Linked DNA regions of Homo sapiens: region 1 is linked to region 2. The links come from fine-mapping of genetic effects on gene expression. A gene starts in region 2. The other region holds a variant in brackets. All regions are shown on one strand. Distances are between the middles of the regions. Region 1 overlaps DUT-AS1 (DUT antisense RNA 1). Region 2 holds the start of CTXN2-AS1 (CTXN2 antisense RNA 1).

Region 1 (5,381 bases), 120 kb before region 2:
CTTTCTCTTGAGTCACACTCATTTCCTAGGTTCCAGAATATCTCAAGTCCTCTCTTGCCTGGGGGCTTTTGCCCGTAGTGTTCATTCTGCCTGGCCTGTTCTACTCACTGTTCTTCACATGGGTAGCACCATCAAAGACAAAAACTGAATAAGTAAGGAGATTGATTTTATTTTGGCTATTGCAATAGGGAAAACACCCCAGATTTGAAGATTAGAGTATGTATTTATTTTCTATTACTGCTGTAAAAAATTTTCACAAAATTAGTGACTTAAAACAATAGAAATTGATTCCCTTACAGTTCTGGAGGCTAGAATTCCAAAATGAGTCTTCCGTGCCAAAAATCAAGGTGTCTCTGGTGCCACATTGCCTCTGGAGAGATGCAGATTCTCTAAGGGAGAATCTGTTTTCTTGCTTTTTCCCATGTCTAGAGCTGCATTCCTTGGCTCATGGCCCCTTTATCTTCAAAACCGGCAGTGTAGCATCTTCTGTCTGACCCTGCTTCCATCACATGATTTTCTGCTTATAGTCAAATGTCCCTCAGCTTCCCCCTTACAAAGATACTTGTGCTTATGCATGTGGTGCTTAATACCTAGGTGATGGGTGGATAGGTGCAGTAAACCATCATGGCATGTGTTTACTTATGTAACAAACCTGCACATCCTGTACATGTATCCCAGAATTTAAAATAAAATAAAGTAAAATAAAATTTAAATTTAAAAAAATACTTGTGCTTTTATTTAGGACTTAGCCAGATAATCCAGGATGATTGCCTCATCTCAAGATCCTTAATCACATTTGCAAAAGCCCTTTTTCCATGTAAGGTAAAATTCACAGATTTCAGGGATTAGGACCTGGATATCTTCAGGGGCCGTGTTCAGCCTACTACAGTGTATCTAGCAGGATAGTTTTGTTTTAGATTTTTTCTGTTTGTTTGTTTTTTTGAGACAGAGTCTTACTCTGCCACTCAGGCTGGAGTGCAGTGGTGTGATCTCAGCTCACTGTAACCTCTGCCTCCTGGGTTCAAGCAATTCTCCTGCCTCAGCCCCCTGAGTAGCTAGGATTATAGGCACCCGCCACCATGCCCGGCTTATTTTTTTGTATTTTTAGTAGAGGCTGGGTTTCACCATGTTGGCCAGGATGGTCTCAAACCCCTGACCTCAAGTGATCTGCCCACCTTGGCCTCCCAAAGTGCTGGGATTACAGGTGTGAGTCCCCACACCTGGCCTTGTCTTAGATTTTTATAGGGAAGAGTAGACAAGTTATAGGTGGAGTAAATTTAAAGTTGGGATTGTTTATTTCTGTGTCTAGTTAGTTTCATGAGGACAAAACTTATCTCAGCTAATCATCCATGAGACAAAGAATAAAGTTAGAAGGTGTCTGTCTGACCTTATGTGCAGGCTCAGTTTAAAGGGGAAAAGTCTGGGTTTGACCTTGTCACAGGTAAACAAAGGAATCATCTACAGTCTTGTAGGAATCATGAGAAAGAGTTGGCAGTGTCTTGTCTAAGTCATATAGGGAATGGTGGTTGATTTCAGTTAGCCATTTCTAGAACACAGAAAGCTGGGGAGACTTCTTAACGATTGCTGTGTTCCAGGAGCACAGGGCTCCGGTAAAGTTCAACACTGTCAGCACCTTCTTATCCTTATGTGTTTTTCATAGACATCCTCACTGAGTACCCTAATAAAGTATTACTATTTCCATTATTCTCTGTCACACTGATACAGAACAGCTGGGCTCCTGGCTAAACCCCCTCCCCACCCCACCCTTAAGCCTGGAACCACAGCCCTAAGTGAAAATAGCTGACCCTGTTTTTCCACCCAAATGTTACTTTTTTGGCCTGCCACGCCCCTATCCTGTTGACATAAAAAGACTTCAACTGGCAGAGCAACACAAGCAGCGGAGCGGTGGGGGTACAAGCTGCTGAGCATCAAGACTATGGATAGATGTGGCTAACTTCAGACAGTGTGGCTTCAGGGAAAGATCACCTTCTTCCCACACCCATCCCCTTTCCAATTCCTTATCCTGCTGAGAGCCACTTATATCACCCAGTAAAATCCTCCGCATACACCAACCACCCTTCTATTCGTTCTTGTGGCCTGATTCTTCCTGGATGCCCGGGTACGGAGAGGGCAGGGGCTTGGATGCTGCTATAGGGCCTGCACAGAGCGTGCTCCTGCCAGAGAGGAGTAATGGGCCAGTTCCAGTGTTGTCTCCGGTTGCTGCACTCGCTTGCTCGCAGGCTCTCTTTTGGGAGGAGTGGCCGACAGTGGGCTGAGTGAAAGGAGCCTCTCCAGTTCCCGCCCACAAAGGGCATCAAGGTCAACAGAGTTATCCTGTCTCAACACTTTCTCTTTATTTCCTTCACAGTATTTTTCACAATTTGTAATTATTATGTGTAACTTGTTTTCTTGTCTGTCTAAACCTTTAACTTTTTGAGGGCAGGGAATGTGGATGCCAATATCTTAAGAGCTCAGAACAGTGTATCTTTGTGTCTTTACAGCCTGACACATTTTTGTTGAATCAATTGACAAAAGAACTGACACCAGATGGCCAATCAACTCAAGAGAAAGTGAGTATAGTAGTGAACTAAATAAGGATAAAAATAACAGTGATTGAAAAAAGAGGCTGGGCGAGGTGGCTCACGCCTATAATCCCAGCAGTTTGGGAGGCTGAGGTGGGCAGATCACAAGGTCAGGAGATTGAGACCATCCTGACCAACATGGTGAAACCCTGTCTCTACTAAAAATTAAAAAATTAGCTTGGCGTGGTGGCGGTGCCTGTAATCCCAGCTACGCTGGAGGTTGAGGCAGGAGAATCGTTTGAACGGGAGTGCGAGGTTGCAGCGAGCCGAGATCGCACCATTGCACTCCAGCCTGGGCAACAGCGTGAGACTCCGTCTCAAAAACATAAAAAAAAGAGTGAGGCTGGGTGCGGTGGCTCATGCCTGTAATCTTAGCACTTTGGGAGGCCAAGGTGGGCAGATAATTTGAGATTAGTTCAAGACAGCCTGGCCAACATGGTGAAACTCCATCTCTGCTAAAAATACAAAAATTAGCCGGGCATAGTGGCGCATGCCTGTAATCCCAGCTACTTGAAAGGCTGATGCATGAGAATCGCTTGAACCTGAGAGGCAAAAGTTGCAGTGGGTTGAGACATGCCACTGCACTCCAGCCTGGGTGACAGAGCGAGACTCCATCTCAAAAAAAAAAAAAAAAAAAAAAAGAGAGAGAGAGAGAGTCAGAAATCCCAGGCAGCAGGATAAGCATATTCAGAGCTCTGGAGAGTACAGAGTGTGTGGTGCGTCAGGGCATAGC[T/C]GGTGTGGAAGGGCCCTGAGCAGGGCAGAATGCGGCTTCATAGTGAGTCAGAGACCAGACCCCAAAGGAGTTTCATACTTGCCATGTCCCCTCAGTGCCCTGTATTAATTCATCGTTCCAACAAATATCTGTTGAATGTGTTCCATGTGCCAGGCACTGGTCTAGACTTTGAGGATATGGCAGGGAACAGAACAGACAAAATAAGTCTGACAACAGATAGAAGATGTGATTCAAATGAGTAGTGCCGAGAGTTAAGGAGAAAAGTAAAGCAGGGAGGGAGGTATGGGATTTAGACTTCTGATTTCAGAGAGGGAAGCCAGGGAAGGCCTCAGTGAGAACATGCTATTTGCTGATTGTGGGGCTGGGGGCTGGGGGTTGTTTTACCTAACTTGAAGGAAGTGATATCTTGGGGAAGGGCATTCCAGGCAGAGGACACAGCAGGCACTAAGGTCCCAGGGTGCAAACTCACCTGTAAGAAGGCCAGTGTGGTCTGAACAGTGACAGAGGAAGGCGTACACAGTTGTAGGTGTTGAAGTCGCAGAAATAGGTGGATGGGGTGCAGGGGTAGGGCCTTGTAAGCTCTTGTAAGGACAGTGGCTTTTCCATGGACTGAAATGGGAAGCCATTAGAAGATTTTGGTAACAGGAATGACAATCTCTAGTTTACTTGGCAGGATTGCTTGGGTTGCTATGAGGAAGAGGAGGAGTAAGGCCTGATGTGGAAAGACCTTTGAGAAGATGTTGAAATGAGGCAGAGGAGGAGCTAGGCCTGATGTGGAAAGACCCTTGAGAAGGCTCCTGCAGTGATCCAGGTGAGAAATGGTCCAGTGGCAACATGGGTCAGAGAGGCAGAAGTGGAGATGGTGACAAGTGAGTAGATTCTGGATATATTCTGAAGCCAATAGGATTTGCTGATAAATCAGATGTGCGTGTGAGAGTCAAAGATGACTCGAAGATTCATGGCAAGGATAGCATTGTCATGCATGGAGATGAAGGAAGAGTGTTAAAGAGCACCTTTGGGAAGGAAGAGTAAGAGCTCACTTTTGGACACATTAAGTCAAAAGTGCACAAATAATACTTTTTTTTAGTAGAATTCATTTTGTAAATGTATCTTTGAGCATTAGGAAATCACAGTATGGTGATCTGTTTCCAATGTGCGTGTTGTGTTAGCAGCTGGAGTTGTTTAATATTTTTTTTTGTATTTGTTTTTGTTTTTTGTTTTTTGAGACAGAGTCTTGCTCTGTCACCCAGGCTGGAGTGCAGTGGTGCAATTACAACTTACCGCAACTTCCGCCTCTAGGGCTCAAGTGATCCTTCCCACCTCAGCCTCCCAAGTAGCTGGGACTACAGGCATACACCACCACACCTGACTAATGTTTGTTATTATTATTATTATTTTTTTTTTGTAGAGACAGGGTTTCACTGTGTTGCCCAGACTGTTCTCGAACTCCTGAGCTCAAGCTATCCTCCTGCCTCGGCTTCCCAAAGTGCTGGGATTACAGATGTGAGCCACCGTGCTTGGCCTAACATCTTTAAATACCTGTTATTTCTTACTCCTCTGAACTTCTCACTTTCCCTGAGAATAATTTTACCACCTCTTTGTTGGGCAGAAGTGCAATAGGAACATCAGAAAGTGCAAGTACATAATAACAGAGAAGTCAGTCTCTTTTTCTTCATCTCTTGGGCATCGAAAAGAGCAGATGATCCAGATTTGAAAGTCTGGGAAAGCCATGCTGTGTGAGAACAGGGGCTTGCATGACAACAGAGGGTTGGGCTTGAGCCCCCAGGGTCTGCAGCAGTCTCACAGTTTAGCAGTTACTTATGCCTTTCTCTCAAAGTCAACTGCTGAGTTTTGTCCCAAACTACCCTCTGCTGCAATATGTCTCCCAGGCTGAGGAGGAAATTAGTCTTCTTATCCCAGTTGTCATTGCTTGTCACCTTCTCTGAAGCAATGACATTCATGACCTGGTTCTTGGCCTCAACCTCTGAGAAGTTCTCCTTTCTGCATTCCTCATCTTAAATTACTTAACCTGAAAATATACTGTTTAAATCTTACACTGGAGCTCC
Region 2 (5,381 bases):
CTATAATAAAGGAGGCTAGGGCTTCTAGAATGAGGCATTAGCAAACAGTGTCAAATTCTGCAGCGGTGATGGAAACTAAGCACTGGAAAACAGGGTCTTATGGTTGGCATTCAGAATTATTTCATCATTATAAAAATTTAGTTGAGAGTCTAGGAGGGACACTAAATTGAATTGGATTTAGGAGTGAGGGGTAATGAGAAAATGGAGTCAGGTGGTAAATAAACTTGACAGAAAATAAGTTTTACTTAGTCGGTACAGAAGGTTAAATCATATGATGAATCACTTTCAATAATGAAGACATGACTGCATATTCAGTTTTTAAAGGAAGAGCTCCATAAATTTACCTGGATTCAAAGAACTGTAAAATTTCCATTTTTAACAAAAAAAAAATGGGTTGAGAAAGAACAAATGTTTTATTAATATCTTAAAAGAGAAAACAGGCTTTTATATTTATCATAAAATATACTTTATACTAAAGATGAAAACAAAATACAGGTCAAGGAGAGCAACTGAAAAAGTAATATTCAAAGGCTGATTAAAAATTTGTCCATTGCTGCAGGCTGTGCCTACACAAGCAAATAGAAGTAAAAAGTTAAGCAATTGCCTAACAATGTGTTCAGCAAATAGATGGTTTTAGTAATTTAAACCATATATATAGCAGTTGAAATATCAGTATTTCAGGCCTAAATTTTTCAAACAATTGGCCAAACTTTCCATTTTACTTGCTCTGTGAAATGAAGAACTTGTCTCATTTCAACAACAAATCCAAAGTTTTTGAGGATATACTGTTAAGTGTGCCAAGTCCTGCTTTTCTACTGATATAGAGCATAATATGATATGAAAATATTGTTAATAACAAAATATTATTAAAAACAAAAGTCCCCAGTTATAAAACTGATTCATTCACAATTACTAAGGTGTTCAAAATACTCAACAGTTATAGATAAAATATGCATTTTCACTTTCTCTAAAAGCTGGAAGAGCTATTCACAACAGACACTGTAATGCCTAGCTCCAGAGAAGCATCATTTTAATATCCTGTTTATTGGGAAATAGAAAAAAAAAGAAATCTGAGAAAATTTAGATTAAGTTACAAAACCATATATTAAAAAATCCATATAAAAATAGTTAAGAAAAAATGAACTTTCAAAAATAAGTAGAATGTAAAATTGGGTAGTGGTAAAAGTTATTTGAAATATATTATACCACAAAATTGGGTAAAATAAACAATGCACAGTTTAAATATCAGGATCAATATATATAATGATTAAAATATTTAAGTGTCTTTTAATACTACTGATGCAAATGATAAAATATTGTCTTGAGCCATATTCACTGGAATAAATGGTTAGGTACTTTGGCAATGAGTAACTTGGTTGAAAGTACATTTCCTTCATGGCAATTGTCAGGCACCAAGATTTCTAAGTACTGATGAGTCATAAGATTGGGCCAGGGGTGTTCCTGTAGATATCAAATAGCCCAAATCTCATGAAGTTGCTTTGTAATTGGCAACTAGTAAGTAAAAAACAAAGTCTTCCTATGATCAGTACTTACAAATCATATCTCCGTAAGCAGTTAAGCAAAGATGATAGTATTTTTATACCTGATATGCAGCCTTTCATATTCATGAATATTGTTAGTGATGTTTATGTCTTCTGTGAAATAACCTTACTAGAGATATAAAAATATACCTTTCAGATAAAATCATTTAATCATGCAACAATGCACAATTACAGAAACTAATGTTAAAAAGTGTGTACCCATTAAAGAAAGAACCTCCTGTGTTTTATTTTAATCAACAGGTTTTTCCTCTTGTTTATTTCTCTAGTAATGGTATTCCAAACAATAAACCTGAAATAATAACTATTAGAGTGGAATATGATGTTCTAGGTAGAAAGTATTTTAGCACTGGTCATTAGATATAATAATCTCTACTGCTAATGATGACATTCATAATTTCATGAAATAAGACATATAAGAAAACCCAAGCTTAAAAAATAATGAACCATTCCATACATATACACACTCCACACAAAATATAAAGATTATATCCCAGTAAAAGAGAGAAAAGAAGCATTATTGAAACCACATCTGCACAGAGGTAGTTAATCATTAAGAATCGAATGTGTTGGAATAAAAGGAAAACCTTAAATTACAAACCTAGATGTCTTCATCATGGTGAAATGCATAAATTTCAGGGCTTTCCAGAGATCCCAGACCTTAGGATCTGCCAGAATCCACCCCTAAACCCTCAGATTTCAACCTTAAGAGAATTTCTCTCTTAAGAGAATCTTTGGATGGCTCAAGGACTCTGACACTCAATCCTTCCAACGCACTGGGAAACCTGGTCTGAAAATTCTCCAGATATCTCATTAAAGAAACCTAGACCATCATCATCATTCTGCGTTGTTTGTTTCCAGGTCTCTTTCTACGCACTAAACCGAAGAAGCATGGAAACTTCCTACAAAACATTATGGGAGAAGCATCAGCAATCTGCACGTACACAACACTTTTCCCCCGCCTGGCAGCCGCATCAGCAGTGGCGCTAGCATTAGGGGTGCTGTTTCTCCTTTAGAATTTGAACTTATCAGACCTACTGGCTCCTCCACCCACCGCCCCACCCCCCGCTCTTTTGCTTCAGAAATACAAGAGAATGAGGACATGCTTCTCATCTGGACCTGCATTTGGAACGCTGTCAGTTAATGCGGAGGGAAGGGGGAGAAAGTTACTTCGCAGACAGCGATGTCTCACCTTCCATGCTTGTTGCCATGGAGATGAAGTCCAGCCAGTAGACTTAAGTGTTGGCACGTTTGTCTGTGTTCGCTGATCGGTTCAGTAACAAATGTAGAAGGCGTGTTCTGGAACCTGCGTAGAGTCACAGGGCCCTGGTTAGCGCTTTCCTGGCCTAGAAGTGTAAATGTCTGTGTCTGTTGGTGAGACAGAGGACGTGGGCGCCCGCCGAAGTACGTGTGCGCGCGCGCGTTTGCAGGAAAACGTGCATGGATTTCTTCGGTGTGGCAGTGTGTAAATATTTGCGCTCGCGTGTGTCTGTGGCAGCATCTGTGTGTGTATGTGAGACTGAAAGGAGGTGGGAGATGAGGAGGGGAAGGGAATCAGCTCCAGCAGCAACAGGCTCTATTCTTCAGTTCTGCTAAAAGAAAGAGGAAGAGAGGAAGAAAAAAATAGACACTCCTTTTTTTTCTCACGACACACCCTGAAGGTTAGCAATTAGATTTCATCATTATCTTTGTTTACTAAGGCAGTGAGGGTTTAATTGATTTACTGCTGAAATCCTTGTTTTGCTCTCTTTGCTGCATTCCTGGCTGTGCTGCGGGCATTTTGCTGTGCTTTGGTGACAGCCGTTTTCAGTAGAACAGTAGGCACTAAATTCTTACACGTTTCTTCTTATCCGGTAAGGAAAATTCAGGAGTGAAAGGTGTATTGATTTAACTGGAGACTGAATGTGTCGTTTGGAGTTCTTTTCCTCTACTCTTTCCCTTCTCTCTTCCACACAAACACAACTGAATCCCCTTCCGTTTCTAGGAGAAGGCGCCTAGGCGCTGTCCGTAGTGCTGAAATGGTGCGTGGTGAGACCTGTCTCCCCAACACAAGCTAGAAGACAACAAAATAGCAGCCAGGAAACGCTCTGATAAAGCTCTAGATAGCTGCCAGGTACGTTTTCTAAACAGTGTTGAATATGTAGATTCTAAACCTAACCGACGTTGAAAGCAAGGTAAAGCAAAGCAAAGCAAAGGAAAACAAAAAAACAACAACAGAAACCTTGCTCTTTATCCTTATTTTAGGGGTCTGGCCGTTTCAACAAACTCAGTTACAGGGTTCCCAATTCTATTTATGTTTTGCGACTCTATCCAGAACCTACAAGTTGCAAGCACTTTTAGATTCCCTACAATCTTAATTATTCACCTTATAACTACTGGACTGTGAGTCGTTGGGGGAAATGTAGATACAGAATTGGGACACTCATCTAAAGAAAATACTTTGAAAACGTAATGTAACTGCAACTAGATTCAATAACAAAGTGAAGACAAACTTCATGATTATTTAGAGTATTTACTGATTTAGGAAATGTAATGGTCTTACAAAAAAATGGGCAATGTATAACTGAGAGTTCATATAAGACCACATTTTTTAAAAGTTGTTTTTTGATTTTAAACTATTAAGATGTCCTAAAATGTAGGTGAACTAACTGCCCTCTATGAAAGACTGAAAGACATATCTTATTCTAGGGACATTTCCATGGCCATGGTTTTATTGACCCTTTTTAAACTTGCCAAGGGCCACATTCTTTATTAGCACTCTGGGCTGGAACAGTGCTTCTTGAAGTATAACATGCATATGAATCTTCAACGATCTTGCTAAAATGCAGACTCTGATTCAGTAGGTGTGGGGTTGGGTCTCAGATTGTGCTTTTCTGACAATTTCCTAGGTGATGCCAGAGATTACTAGTTTTGGGACCAATTAAAGTAGCAAGATGCAGCCAGGAGTGGTGGCTTATGCCTGTAATCCCAGCACTTTGGGAGGCCGAGGTAGGAGGATCACCTGAGGTGAGGAGTTTGAGACCAGCCTGACCAACATGGCGAAACCCTGTCTCTACTAAAAATACAAAAATTAGCTGGGTGTGGTGGTGGGTGCCTGTAATCCCAGCTACTCAGGAGACTGAGGCAGGAGAATCACTTGAACTCAGGAGGCGGACATTGCAGTGAGCTGAGATTGTGCCACTGCACTCCAGCCTGGGTGACAGAGCGAGACATTGTCTCAAAATAAATAAATAAATAAAAATAAAGTAGCAAGATGCTAGAGATATTGAATTCTGGCAATGCAGTCAGTCATAGATTGTGGGAAAGGAGATCATTTTATTCCATCTATTATTCTATGTATGTTTCCAAACTGTTACAAAAATAATTTATTCAAAATTAGTTCAGAGACTAATCATGTAAACATTTTGTCTGTACAGTATGAACAATTTTTTATGAATTTGATTCCTTTGATTTTGATTTTGACATTGTCTGGACCAGTGGTATAGTTGAGTCTGTATTTCCATACTATGATCTATAACCATTCATTCTCTTTGCAGGCCGAGCTCAAGGGAGCAGAACTAAGTTACATGATTCTGCTGCGGATGTATAAGCACCACTCCAATAATTTATTATCACGGTTGGAGACTTTGACTTGTCACTTTATGACTTGAAATATGGCTCCATGGTAAATGCCCATAAAGCTGATTTTTAAAATCTGGATATTACAGTTCTAATTCTCACTTAGTTTAAAAGGTAGAATAGGCTTCTTGTTTCATAGATCATTTGTGTGAATGTTGATTTGTTATGTCATTGACATCATACACACATGCTTACATTTTGAAG

What was found. PIP is the estimated chance that this variant, and not a neighbour inherited with it, causes the effect.
Region 1: its variant is fine-mapped to the expression of CTXN2-AS1 in whole blood (TOPMed, PIP above 0.99).

The regions. Positions count from the first base shown.
Region 1 is chr15:48,312,084-48,317,464 of GRCh38, reverse strand. It overlaps DUT-AS1 (DUT antisense RNA 1), which reads left to right. Exons shown (of 3, transcript NR_186809.1): 2 at 2,502-2,570; 3 at 4,724-5,381. LOC124903486 (a long non-coding RNA gene) reads left to right here. Exons shown (of 2, transcript XR_007064625.1): 2 at 1-741. Among named protein-coding and RNA genes, the nearest start is that of DUT, 17 kb to the left of the region's middle. The variant T/C (reference allele first, on the strand shown) is at 3,316.
Region 2 is chr15:48,189,224-48,194,604 of GRCh38, reverse strand. CTXN2-AS1 (CTXN2 antisense RNA 1) reads left to right here and starts at 2,896. Exons shown (of 3, transcript NR_184082.1): 1 at 2,896-3,020; 2 at 3,544-3,672; 3 at 5,096-5,381. CTXN2 (cortexin 2) reads right to left here and starts at 2,940. Exons shown (of 2, transcript NM_001145668.2): 1 at 2,752-2,940. RefSeq lists an enhancer at 2,433-2,936.